Linked DNA regions of Homo sapiens. The protein of the gene in region 1 purifies or fractionates together with the protein of each later gene. This does not show direct contact. Each region holds a gene or a part of one and is shown in the gene's direction. Other genes may lie near its edges. The genes, in order: WDR7 and DMXL2.

Evidence for each region.
Region 2: the proteins of WDR7 (region 1) and DMXL2 purify together in Homo sapiens (affinity purification with western blotting; 2 studies listed by BioGRID and IntAct, with this or other methods). This does not show direct contact.

The regions. Positions count from the first base shown.
Region 1 is NC_000018.10:57,025,322-57,030,554, forward strand, and holds the end of WDR7 (WD repeat-containing protein 7), read left to right. Parts: intron 1-1,682; coding exon 1,683-1,886; 3' UTR 1,887-4,471; downstream 4,472-5,233.
Region 2 is NC_000015.10:51,493,697-51,500,995, reverse strand, and holds part of DMXL2 (dmX-like protein 2), read left to right. Parts: intron 1-764; coding exon 765-2,444; intron 2,445-2,531; coding exon of another isoform or gene 2,532-2,617; exon of another isoform or gene 2,618-2,759; intron 2,760-5,861; coding exon 5,862-5,972; intron 5,973-7,299. UniProt on the Homo sapiens protein: May serve as a scaffold protein for MADD and RAB3GA on synaptic vesicles. Plays a role in the brain as a key controller of neuronal and endocrine homeostatic processes.

The DNA.
Region 1 (5,233 bases):
TTAACCAGCAATCTTCTGTGTCATTTGGATCTATCAAATTAAGCTCATCATCATTATTTATATTTTAACTATTTGGGAACATCCAAGAAAGCAATAAGGCATTGATTTTTATCTTCTGTGAAGTTTTTGGGAAAAGGAGAGAAGGAAGCAAAGAAACACGCTTCTGAAAGGGTGACAGTAAGGAACTGCCTGGCTGGAAACAGGAACCGAACTTTAACAGAAAGAGTTAACAATAACCATACATTTGGTTTTAAAATGTGACCTCGTACACTAGTGATTTTTTTTCACCTCTGTGTTGTGTTCAGCGCTATTATTAATGCAGGAAAATCAGTAACATTAGTCATCTTAAAAGGGTTATTACTCAAGATGATTTAAATTGTGAAAATGTCAGTGGAGCCTGCACACACTCTGCTAGAGATGCCATGATTTACGCCCTCTGACACCATCCTGCTGCTGAGAAGGGCTAGAAAAAGGAATGGCTTGTGTTTTGCACTGATCCACATGCAGGGGATGATGTCAGTGATAACGCATCTTAAATGTCCTAGGATTTGCCAGAGTTTCATGGATCAACCATTTGTAGATGTTGGATCATAATCTGCATGCTTCATGCAAATCTCTAGAATCTTACATCGAGATGGAGGTTATACTGGAGAGAAGCATTGGAAATGAAAATTAGTACAAAGAAAAAGTGTTATTTCCAAGGCTTCTTTCCAGATTTTCAGTATTCTTTCCATGTGATATTATAATAGCACACATAATGCTATTGAAGATATTTTAAGTAATATTTAGAATCTAAAGAAATCTTCAGACTCAGTTGCTTAGGAAACAGTTCACTTAGACAGCTACCATTCAGTATTTAGTACTTCAACCTGAATGCATAGTTGTTCATGATTCATAATTTCCATGTTGTTTTTCATTTATGTGGCTGGATTAAGAAAACCTAAAATTTAAATCCAGAAAAACTGCCAAAAAGCAGAAGTTATCAATTGATAAAAAGGTATTGTCAATAAAATATTAACAGCAGACTCTCCTTAGTATGATAGCAAAACAGTGAGGCACAGACATAGTGTTGAGATGAAATTGATTCTGGTTCTGCACTTTATAATAAGCAAGAGCTTTCCAGAAAGCGAGTTTTTAAAAAGCAAGTGAAGAGTGAAGGTATTAGTAGGTGGGAAATGGGGGTGGAAGGGAGTCTTGAGCTTTATTTGATCCAATTGTCACTCTATCTACTGCTTAACTTTGCTTCCTTTTCTTGAACTAATTACAAATCCCAAAACTTGTCTTCGCTGACTCATCCTTCAGGGAGTGAGTGCAGTTAGCATTGTGGTAAAGAACATGAAAGTCTTCAGTTTTAAATATCCACAATTTCCAAATATCTGTGTTGTCTAAATGAACCATTTTATTAAGAGGTATAATTTAGCCCTCTTCCTAAAGATCCATGGACTCTCCTTTTGTCAGGTTCTACCCCTATAAAATTCCTCTAGATTTCTGCATTTACCATAACAGCATCGGAACAATTCCAAGCACACTGAAAGGAACTTTTGAGAGGTTAAGAACAAGCTTAGGTGAAGGAGAATAACCATGATGGAGGGGAAAGTAGCCAGGAGAGATCGACCCAGTCTCTGTGATAGGGAAAGGGAGAGGGCTGTTCAAGTGACACATGTGCTCTCCTGTCCCTCCAGATGAACACGTCACTGCTGGGAAGCATCGGCATGCTGAACTCGGCACCTCAGCTGCGCTGCATTAAAACCTACCAGGTGCCCCCTGTGCAGCCCGCGTCCCCCGGCTCCCACAATGCCCTCAAGCTGGCCCGGCTCATCTGGACTTCCAACCGCAACGTCATCCTCATGGCCCATGACGGGAAGGAGCACCGCTTCATGGTCTAATGCTGCTGCCTGCCGCCGTGACTGCGTTTTAGTTCTCTAAATTATCCAAGCCGATGTTGCTCTGTCCTTCCTCACACCAGATTGTTCCCAGGGGCCTGCCCACCCCAGTGCCATCCAGTGGCACGGCCGGGTCTTGTCACTTGTGCATGCTTCTCAGGGGCAGAACCCGCTCGTGCCATCTGTCGATTCAGAGGCACGCACACATGCTCTGCAGGATGTGGCCATCCTGTCACCAGGTAGTTTTTCCCTGCCAGAGATGGCAGGGGAAAGCCAGTGGTTCCTGGGAACGCTCTTGTTGCTTGGTGCAACAGAAGCACAAAAATCAATAAACACTGTGATTGCACTCCCAGCCCAGATCAGCATTTTTAGCCATCTCAACCGCACCTCTGAAGTGCTGCTTGAATCTGGCCGTTCTGACACTGGGTGTTGAGGTCATGTGGCAGTCCTCACGATTGAAATTATTGCCCTTTGAATTACCTAAAATATTGTTTACCAAAAAGATTCTGTGTTTACATGTTCTTTTCTTCTGGTGATTGCTAGGAAATTACTCAATCCAATTTCCTAGGGTTTAGCTACCACCTTCTTTATCAACAGCTAACCAATTTGAGATTCATGATTAATTATGTACACAAAAATATTTTCCTTGTAGAAAATAGTTTTCCAGACACTTAGCCTTCTGAAGTGCTCATCTCTTGCTTAAATGATAGTCTATTTAGTAGTTTAAAATAAAAATAATCACTCCCTATGATCTAGTTAATGTAATTATCCAGTCACTGTAACTAATCTCTTGAAGGGACTTTTGTGATAAAGAGCCAAGTTCAGAAGCATAGCGTGTACCGAAAATGAAGACTCTCCTATCTACTGCTACAGATCCTGTTGAAGAAAGAGCTTACCCCTTTCCCCCGGAAAACTTGCAATCCTGTAGTTCCCATATGTGTGGCATATGTCAGTTATGAAATTATTATAATTCAGCCTTCAAACTACTACTGATCAACTAAAGGAAAGCTAATAAGGTATTTCTTTTAAACAAGTATTCTGGAAAAGTAATAACTATGGCACAAATGTTCAGGAGTGTATATAAAAATATGTGGGCTCTCGATTTATTTGAGCAAACATTGCAATGAGGGTGTTCATTATGCTTCTAAGTAAGCTTTAACTAGACCACTTTCTTCTTATGTCAGATTGTGCTGGTTCTAGCTCATAATAATGAAAAAAATAGAATTATATTTTGTATGAATTGTTTCTAACAAACCTTGATCTGTATATACTTGTGAGGGGTTGTTTGGTTGCCTAATTGTTGATTGGTTGGTTAGTTGGGCAAAATCATTTATTACATGCAAAAATAGAAAATTATTTGTTAAATTCAGAGAAAATATGTGAAGTTTACAAAGGAACCAAAATGATAATGGGAGAATTTAGTCTTAAAAGTTTAGGTTGTCAGAGTTTATCTGATATACAAAAAAGTAGGATCAAAGTCTAGGAACAAACATTGGTTATTTCACTGAAACAGATTTTTAAAGAGCATATTAAGAAATTAAGACCATTAGATCATCTCTTTCATAATGATATGATGTTATTTCCATTGACGGCAAATCTATACTGTTCCTTGGTTTTAGAGTTGGGTATTCTTTCAAAAGTGAATTTAGGCACATGCATGTACATTGTATTTATAAAGATTATATATGTAGTTTCCAAGGAAGAAACAAAGACCTATACAGTTTAGACTTTATTTGTTTGGTGAACGTGCTGTTGTGTTTGGCATAGCTAGAGAAATGTAAGGTAAAAGGCTCACTTTGTTTTCCAGTGGGTCCAGAGTCTTCTCTATACCCAACATATGTTTACTTTATGAACTTAAATGGAAATTAATTTATTGTAGACTACATCTCTATTTGGAATGATGAGGTAAATGTATACCTTAGCATTTTCTTTAACAAAAATGTTCTGTGTGTCAGGAAAGAGGTGTGAGAGTGGTAGGCAGCCTGCCGCAAACACACGGATGGCTCCCCCCGCCACGAAGGTTGAGAACAAAGCCAGGGGGCCCAGAGGAGCAATAGCCCTGGGCCACAAGCGTGGGTAGGCCTTTCACGTATTCCGTCTGCACAGGCAACCAAGGCCAGTAGAAAGCTATGGCTGCAAAACCCTGGGGTGGACGATGTTTGATGATTAGACGGTCATCTCTAACTACTAAACTAATATCTGCATTCTTGTTAACATAAATCTCTCCTTGGCTATTTTAATAGCCACAGTCCCAAACTTCATCCCAGCTTAGATTTCTCAGCACTGAGGTAAACTCTGCATTGTCATCCCAGCGTACACCTTTAATGTTTTATTGATTTCACTGGCACTGTATTTGGACCTGTCCTTGTATATGTAGAGACATATGTGGCTTCATTGGTAATTTACAAGCAAAAGATGACATGACGTGACACCTGTATGAAAATGTGATGATTGAACTCCCTGTGTACAGCGAGTGAATTAAAATGTCTGCCTCTCCAGACATTTCTTAATGATTCCACTTAATAGACTCTATGTGTGCTGAATGTTCCTGTGTACATATGTGTGTTAAATAAAACAATTGTATTGAAGACTGTTTTTCTCACAATATTACCTTTTCCAGTGTTCACTCATCTTAAACATCCTCAGTTGAAATCCGTATGCTCCGCTAGCCCTGCTGCTTCTAATCATTCATTTCCCTGGAGAGCTGGCTTGGGAAAGGCAACTTATTCCCAGAGGACAGTAGAGCAGAAGTGCAGAGGTAAGCTCTCCCTCCAGAAACTCACTGGCACTCTCTGTGGTTTGGGAAAGGCGTTGCATGCCTGTTGCTTTATCTCTACTCTACATGCTCCCAAATAGACTGGTAATGGCACCAAATCATATCTTGTCAGATTGGATGGCATGGGTTGGCTGCCTCTCGGGAGCTAGGCTGAGATCATCAAGTTCATTGCATTTCACGCTCAGTTTGGAGTCGAATTTGAATCCCTCAGGTAAAGGGTATAATTGGTTTTCAGAAAAATCAAGAATAATAAAATAGGTCCTTACTGCTCATAGAGGGTTATGTGTAAGTAGTGAATGTACTTCTTGTCTCTTAATTATTTCAGATAAGAACACAAAAGCTTGATTTGAGTCAATCATCGTGTAACAGTATAATTTTCTGTAAGAATTCGGTGAACATTCCAGGAGTGGTCTGAGGCATCTTGGGCCCTATTAAATGCCCACTGTGGGCCCCAGGAAATGTTTTAACATCTCATGACTTAAATGTATTCTTATAGGGAAAATAGGGGCAGTAACAGTTCTATATGATCAGCGATCACATAAACTGATCAAATGTGGAAAGGCGTGACGTTAAT
Region 2 (7,299 bases), on another chromosome or scaffold:
CAGTAACTGATCCCAATTGTTTAGATGGAATAGGCTCAGATGATTAAGTAGCTTTCCCACTGTTAATGAAATTATTGATGGGTTGAAACTCAAATCCAGATCTTCTGACCTCAGATCTTTAATCTCTATATCCCCTTGTCTTACAGTTGACAACAGATGTGCATTGTTAGTCTTTGGCAGTCAGGAATAGATAAGAGGGTTCTGGTTCAGTGCTAAGAGAGGATGAATTAAACTTGGTAAAATGGGTAAGATCTATTGGTCTGTTTTGCGGTCTGAAACAAAATTTGGTGTACCACCTGGGGTCTGGATTATTTGAGAGAAGGTTAGGGGCATTTGAAAGGCAAATTGTAAAGCTCAGTTAAGTATTCATGATGAAAATGATTAAATATATAGTATGAAATTCTAAGGAGGCATGTTGTGAAGGTAAATATAAATAATAGAAACACATTAAGGGCTGACTTGTTTCAGTGCTTTTGAGTTTTATTTTAATTAAATGGTTGCCTCATTTAAACTTAATTACCTAAAAACAAATTAAGTGATTATTATTGCATACCTTGATTTCACTGATGGGCTCTTCAAGACCTTTATAGATATGTTGGCCAATGGACATTTAGTGGGATACTAGTTAAGAGGAAGACTGCAGAGATATTCTGAAGAAGCTCATAGTGACTTTAAATTGATCACATTCCAGAATTTGATTACTACCATATTATTTTGTGGCTTTATTATTATTACAACTAACTATTTGCTTTTTCTTTTTTAAGGCCATCTGAGTTCTTCTTCAATTTATCCAGTGTGCCTTGCACCTTATTTAGTGGTTACAACTTGTTCTGACAATAAAGTACGCTTCTGGAAATGTTGTATGGAAGCCAACCCAGAGTGTAATAAAAGTGATGAGAAAGAAATTTATCATTGGAAGAGATGGCCTTTGATGAATGATGAAGGAGAAGATAATAGCAGTACAGTGAGCATTGTGGGAAGACCAGTTGCTGTTAGCTGTTCATACACAGGTCGCCTTGCAGTGGCTTATAAGCAGCCTATCCACCATAATGGTTTTGTTTCTAAAGAATTTTCCATGCATGTTTGTATATTTGAATGTGAATCTACAGGAGGATCAGAGTGGGTTTTAGAACAAACAATTCATCTTGATGATTTGGTTAAGGTTGGGAGTGTACTTGATTCAAGGGTCAGCGTCGACAGTAATCTGTTTGTGTATAGCAAGTCAGATGCACTCTTGAGCAAGGATAGATATCTTATTCCGAATATCAAACATTTAGTACATTTGGACTGGGTATCAAAAGAAGATGGCTCCCACATTCTTACAGTGGGAGTCGGTGCGAATATCTTCATGTATGGAAGGCTTTCAGGAATTGTGACTGAGCAAACCAACAGTAAGGATGGAGTAGCTGTCATCACTTTACCACTAGGTGGTAGTATCAAGCAAGGAGTTAAGTCAAGATGGGTTCTTCTTAGATCTATAGACTTGGTATCTTCTGTTGATGGTACTCCTTCACTGCCTGTTTCTCTCTCTTGGGTAAGAGATGGGATATTGGTGGTAGGAATGGATTGTGAAATGCATGTATATGCACAGTGGAAGCATGCTGTCAAATTTGGAGACACTGAAGCTGATAGTTCTAATGCAGAAGAGGCAGCAATGCAAGATCATTCGACCTTTAAATCTAATATGCTGGCAAGAAAAAGTGTTGTTGAAGGAACAGCTATTTCTGATGATGTTTTTTGTTCACCAACTGTAATTCAAGATGGTGGCTTATTTGAGGCTGCACATGTACTTTCCCCTACTCTTCCACAATATCATCCAACTCAGCTGTTAGAATTGATGGATTTAGGGAAAGTGCGAAGGGCTAAAGCCATTCTCTCTCATTTAGTAAAATGTATTGCAGGTGAAGTAGCAATAGTTAGAGATCCTGATGCTGGAGAAGGAACTAAGCGACATCTCTCTCGAACTATTAGTGTAAGTGGCAGTACAGCAAAGGAAACAGTCACCGTAGGAAAAGATGGTACTCGAGATTATACTGAGATAGATTCTATCCCTCCACTACCACTATATGCATTACTTGCTGCAGATCAAGATACATCCTACAGAATTTCAGAAGAAAGTACAAAGATACCACAGAGCTATGAAGATCAGACAGTAAGTCAACCAGAGGATCAGTATTCAGAGCTGTTTCAAATCCAGGATATACCAACGGATGATATTGATTTAGAGCCTGAAAAGAGAGAAAACAAATCAAAAGTAATAAATCTTTCTCAATATGGACCAGCTTACTTTGGCCAAGAACATGCAAGGGTACTTTCAAGTCATCTTATGCACTCAAGTCTACCAGGCCTTACCCGTTTGGAGCAGATGTTCCTTGTAGCTTTGGCTGATACAGTGGCTACTACTAGTACTGAGCTTGATGAAAGCAGAGATAAGAGTTGCTCAGGTAAATATTCTCGCTAAAAATTTATAAAGTTGTACCTAATAGAAATATTTGTATTATCTCTATACTGACTCATTTACTGAATTGCAGTCTCAACTTTCAAACTTTGCAGGGAAAAGACCTCCTTAATAGGTAATTACTATTATATAATATGCTCAGTTAGAAAAGACGGTTGAGGCCGGCATATGAATGCATGGATTTGTGAGATCCATGTGCATTCTCTCATGAGTTTTTACACTGAAACCTTTGTGTCATTTTGGATTTATAATCTTGTTTTTTTGTGTGTGTTTGGGTGGGTTTTTTGTTTGTTTTTTTGAGACAGGGTCTTGCTCTGTTGCCCAAGCTGGAGTTGAGCGGTGCAGTCATGGGTCACTGTAGCCTTAACCTCTCAGGTTCAAGTAATCTTCCTATCTCAGCCTCCTGAATAGCCGGGACCACAGGTGTGCACCACCATGGGGCCCAGCTAATTTCTTTTTATTTTTTTTGTAGGGACTAGGTCTCCTTATGTTGCCCCAGCTAGTCTCGAATTCCTGAGCTCAAGCAGTCCTCCTGCCTTGGCCTCCCACAGTGCTGGGATTATAGGTATGAGTCACCATGGACTGGCCAAGTCTCTTGTTTTTTAACACAGATTGATCCCTATGATTTTTTCTTTGATAATAACAGCCCATTTGTTAATGTTACTATGGAATCATGAGGCTTATTGGGACCTCATGGGCTCAACTTGTTGGTCTTCCCATTTCTAGCCATAAACAACTTTTTACAATTACCTAATTTTCTCCAAAAAGTCTCTTCAGCGAGATTTCCATACAGTTAATGTCATACGTATTTTGCCTAATTCATTCTGTAACTAGAAAATTTTTGGCTGCTTCCTGGAACTAGATTCCATTCTCTTTTATGCACATAGTTCAGGGTAATGGTGTTGATTGTAAATGATGGCATTGGCAAAGGAAACTGAAAATTAATGATCAGAATTTCATTAATTCAATAAATATTTTGGAGGAGTGAAAAATTGCTATGTTTCAGGCACTTTCTTTACTTTATCATATTTAATTATCACAGTCTTCTAGCAGATAGCTATTATTATGTTTAACTTTATAGATGAAGACACTGATCCTTAAGAAATTAAGGGACTCATCTGAGATCACATAGGCATTAAGGAGTAGAAGTGGAGTTCATATGTGGATAAACTGTTGACTCAAAGCCTGTACCCTTTTAACTATTTCATGATTTCCAGATCTGTGGGGGAAAGGTAGCTGGAAAATATCTCTTCATATAGATTTACATCCTTATAGTATATCCCCCAAAGTTTTCTTCTCTGCAGGTTAAAATAACTAGAGACCTTCTAGGGTTTTGCCTATGACTTATTTTCTCACTATTAATTGGAAAAGAAAAATCTTAACCATTATGAGGTTGTATGCAGTTGAATGAGATTCTTCCCAGAACAACCTTAAGCTTGTGTTGTGTGTTTAATATATATTAGTTTTTACTGTGGGACATTAAGAAAGTAGGCATGGCATGATTTGTAAAAAATAGTTTATACTTTCTAATACAAAACTGTATCATTGGCTAAGCAATATAGAAATAGTGTATCCTGGACACAGTGGACATTCATGAGGTAATAAGGCAGGAATGAATGTCTCCATTTCACAGGTGGGAAACTGAAGCTCAGAGATTAAATGAGTTACACATCTCAGTAAATGGATTCTAAGTAAATGAGTTCTTCCATTTGTTCAGGTGAGACAACTTACAGTCATTCTTGACTCTGCTTTCTCTCATACCCAGTATCCAGTTCATTGGCAAATGCTATCAGTTCTATTAATATCCAGAATCCAATAATCAATTCTCATTACCTCTGCAGTTACTACTCTGGTCCAAGTCCCTGTCATCTCCTAACTGCTTTATTCTTTTTACCTCCATCTGTTCTTTGCTTAGGAACCAGTGATTCTTTTAAAACCAAATCACATTAAATCTCTCCTTTGCTCAACATATACTGGTGCCTTCCTGTCTCACTTTAGAATAAAAGTTAAGAGCCTTACAGTGGCCTAAAAGGCCCCACACGATCTATGCTCATTTCTACTCTATTAGAATGCTCTTCTTCCAGATTCATGCATGGCTTGTTCCTTTACTTCCTCAAATTGCTGCTGGCATGTCATCTTATTGGAGAGTTCCTTCCTGGCCACACTGTATGAAATAGAACTCTCTTACTCCAGCATTCCCTATCTCTCAGTCCTGCTTTATTTCCCTTCATAGCATTAATTTCCACATATTATTTGTTTATTGTTTGTCTCTACCTCCTAAAATATGATCCCCAAGAGAGTAGGGACTTTGCCTTATTCACTGCTGAATTCCCAGTACCTGAAGAGTCCCTCACATGTAATAGATGCTTGATTTGTTGAATGAATAAACGGACGAATGAGCATGGTGGCTCACACCTGTAATGGCAGCACTTTGGGAGGTTAAGGTAGGAGGATTGCTTGAGGCCAGGACTTTTAGACCATCTTGGGCAACATAGTGAGATCTCATGTCCATAAATAAATAAATAGATACATATTAGGTTGGTGCAAAAGTAATGGCAAAACTGTAAATACTTTTGCACCAACCTAATAGCTATCTATCTAGCTAAATAAATAGATGGATGGATGGATATAGGTAATGGGAAGCAGAGCTGGGGCTTGATCTTTGGCAATTTAAAAGTTTTTGTTTTTTTTTTTCTGGAAAATACTATTTGATTCTATAATCATTGAGTACTTCCAAAGTGTCAGTTATTGGGCTAGGTGCTGTCTGTATTTTTGCTTTGCTTTTATCCAGCAGTGGCTATAGTTTTGGTTACGCTTGCCATACCTTCATACTTTGACTAAGTGGAATTAATTTGTATAAATAAATTTGTAGAATCAAGGTGAAGGTTCAAACTAACCATGTAACACTAACTAGCCTGGGTATTCAAATTTTAAATCTTTGATAGTACCATATTTCAGTTAATTTAACCAAAGTAGAAAATACTACCTGCTTAAATATATAACAAATGATTTCACATCAGTTATGTAATTTCCATTACATCTCATCGGAATTCATGTAGAAAATATTATTAAAAGTTGTACCTAACTTACCATAGTTAATATATTTTTTATTGGATTTCCAGATGTCTTTCATTTATTATGAGTCAATATAAATGTTCTTGTTATCTATTCTAATAGTTAATTGTATTTCTCCAAATCATTTTTCTTTTAAGAGTTTAGTAGTCACATTTTTTTTTGTAAAGATAATTTTTTGTAAAGACGTTAAAGTGTTCAGGAAGGAATACACTAAAACTTATGTATTTTATATAAATTATGACTAAGTTTAATGTTTGTTTTATAGCTTATCAGTTTGTGGCCTCTTGCATTCTTTTTTCCTTAAACATATTTCCTGTTTAAATTACAGGAAGAGATACATTAGATGAGTGTGGTTTGAGATACTTGTTAGCTATGCGCCTACACACATGCCTTTTGACATCGCTGCCTCCTTTATACCGAGTGCAGCTACTTCATCAAGGTAATTCACTCACTGTTTGAAGCTTTGCACAACTTTTACTTAATATTGGAGCGATGGGGTGTATCATGTTTGTGTGTAAACATTAGGTAAGTCATTACGTGCACACCTATCACTTGGCTTAAGATCTTTCTGTCACATAGTACCCACTTACCATTTTTCTATGTATCCTTCAGCTCTATTCTGTGACTTTTGCTCATCTAACTAAGTTTTTTAGAATTTATTTACTAGAGTAGTAGCTTAGGGGGTAAATGTGGTATGCCTGAGGTTGTAACCCAAAGTGGCTGTCTACAGAGTAGCCCTGAATATCTTGATGTCTTTTCTTTGAAAAATTATGTAAACTTTGCTCTGCGATGTGTTTTTATATTTACTTTAATGTAAGCATTATGTTCTAGTTATTTGCCAGCAAGTAAAGTTGATGATTCAGGAAGATCTGCCATATTGATAACAGTGGATTTGTGTACTTCAGGCATACTGCTACACCTGATTTGAGACATAAGGATTTATATCAGCCTTCGTATTACAGATTAAAAAATTGAAACTATAGAATTAAAAGTGACCTGCCCAGGATACAGGACTATTTATTAGAAGAGTTGGGAGTGCGAATCCCAGTCCAGAGCTTATTTCAGTGGACTATATTTCTTTTGAAACCAACATCTTGGAAAGAGTCCCATAATATACGTCTTAGTATTATAGAACCTAGAACACTAGGCTTGATACACTGTTATTCTTACCCATGGCACTTACCCTTTAACCTATGAATGTTCTTTGAAAACATAACTATAAATAGCTATCTGAGATTCTGTGTCTAAACTATATTTCATCTGCCCAATCCTTTGTTTTTGAAATAGATTTTGCTGAGGTATTTTTTCTATTTGAATTATCACTCTAATGAATAACCTTGTACCTTGGCATGTAAATATTTGCATTCCTGATTATTTCCTCATGCTAGTTTTCCAGCAGTGGAATTACTGAATCAAAAGGCATGAAAATTCTTCAGTCTTGATAAGTATTACCAAAATGCCCTTCAGAAATGTGCTCATTTACATTCCCAGAAGTTTGTATACACGTACTACGTACCAACAAAAATTGAAAACAAAAAATTATAAAAAATATAAAATAAAAAAGAAGTTTGATGATGCCAAATCTCAACCCCATTGCCCACATTTGATATTAACATTTTAAGCAATCTATGCCATTTGGATAGGTTTTTAAAATGGTATCTCCACGTTCTCTTAAGTTTTAGTTTTGGGTGATAGTCAAGTGGTATTGAATCAGTTAATGACAATTTTGTACATTTCCTAGGGCAGTCTAAAACACTTCAAATTTC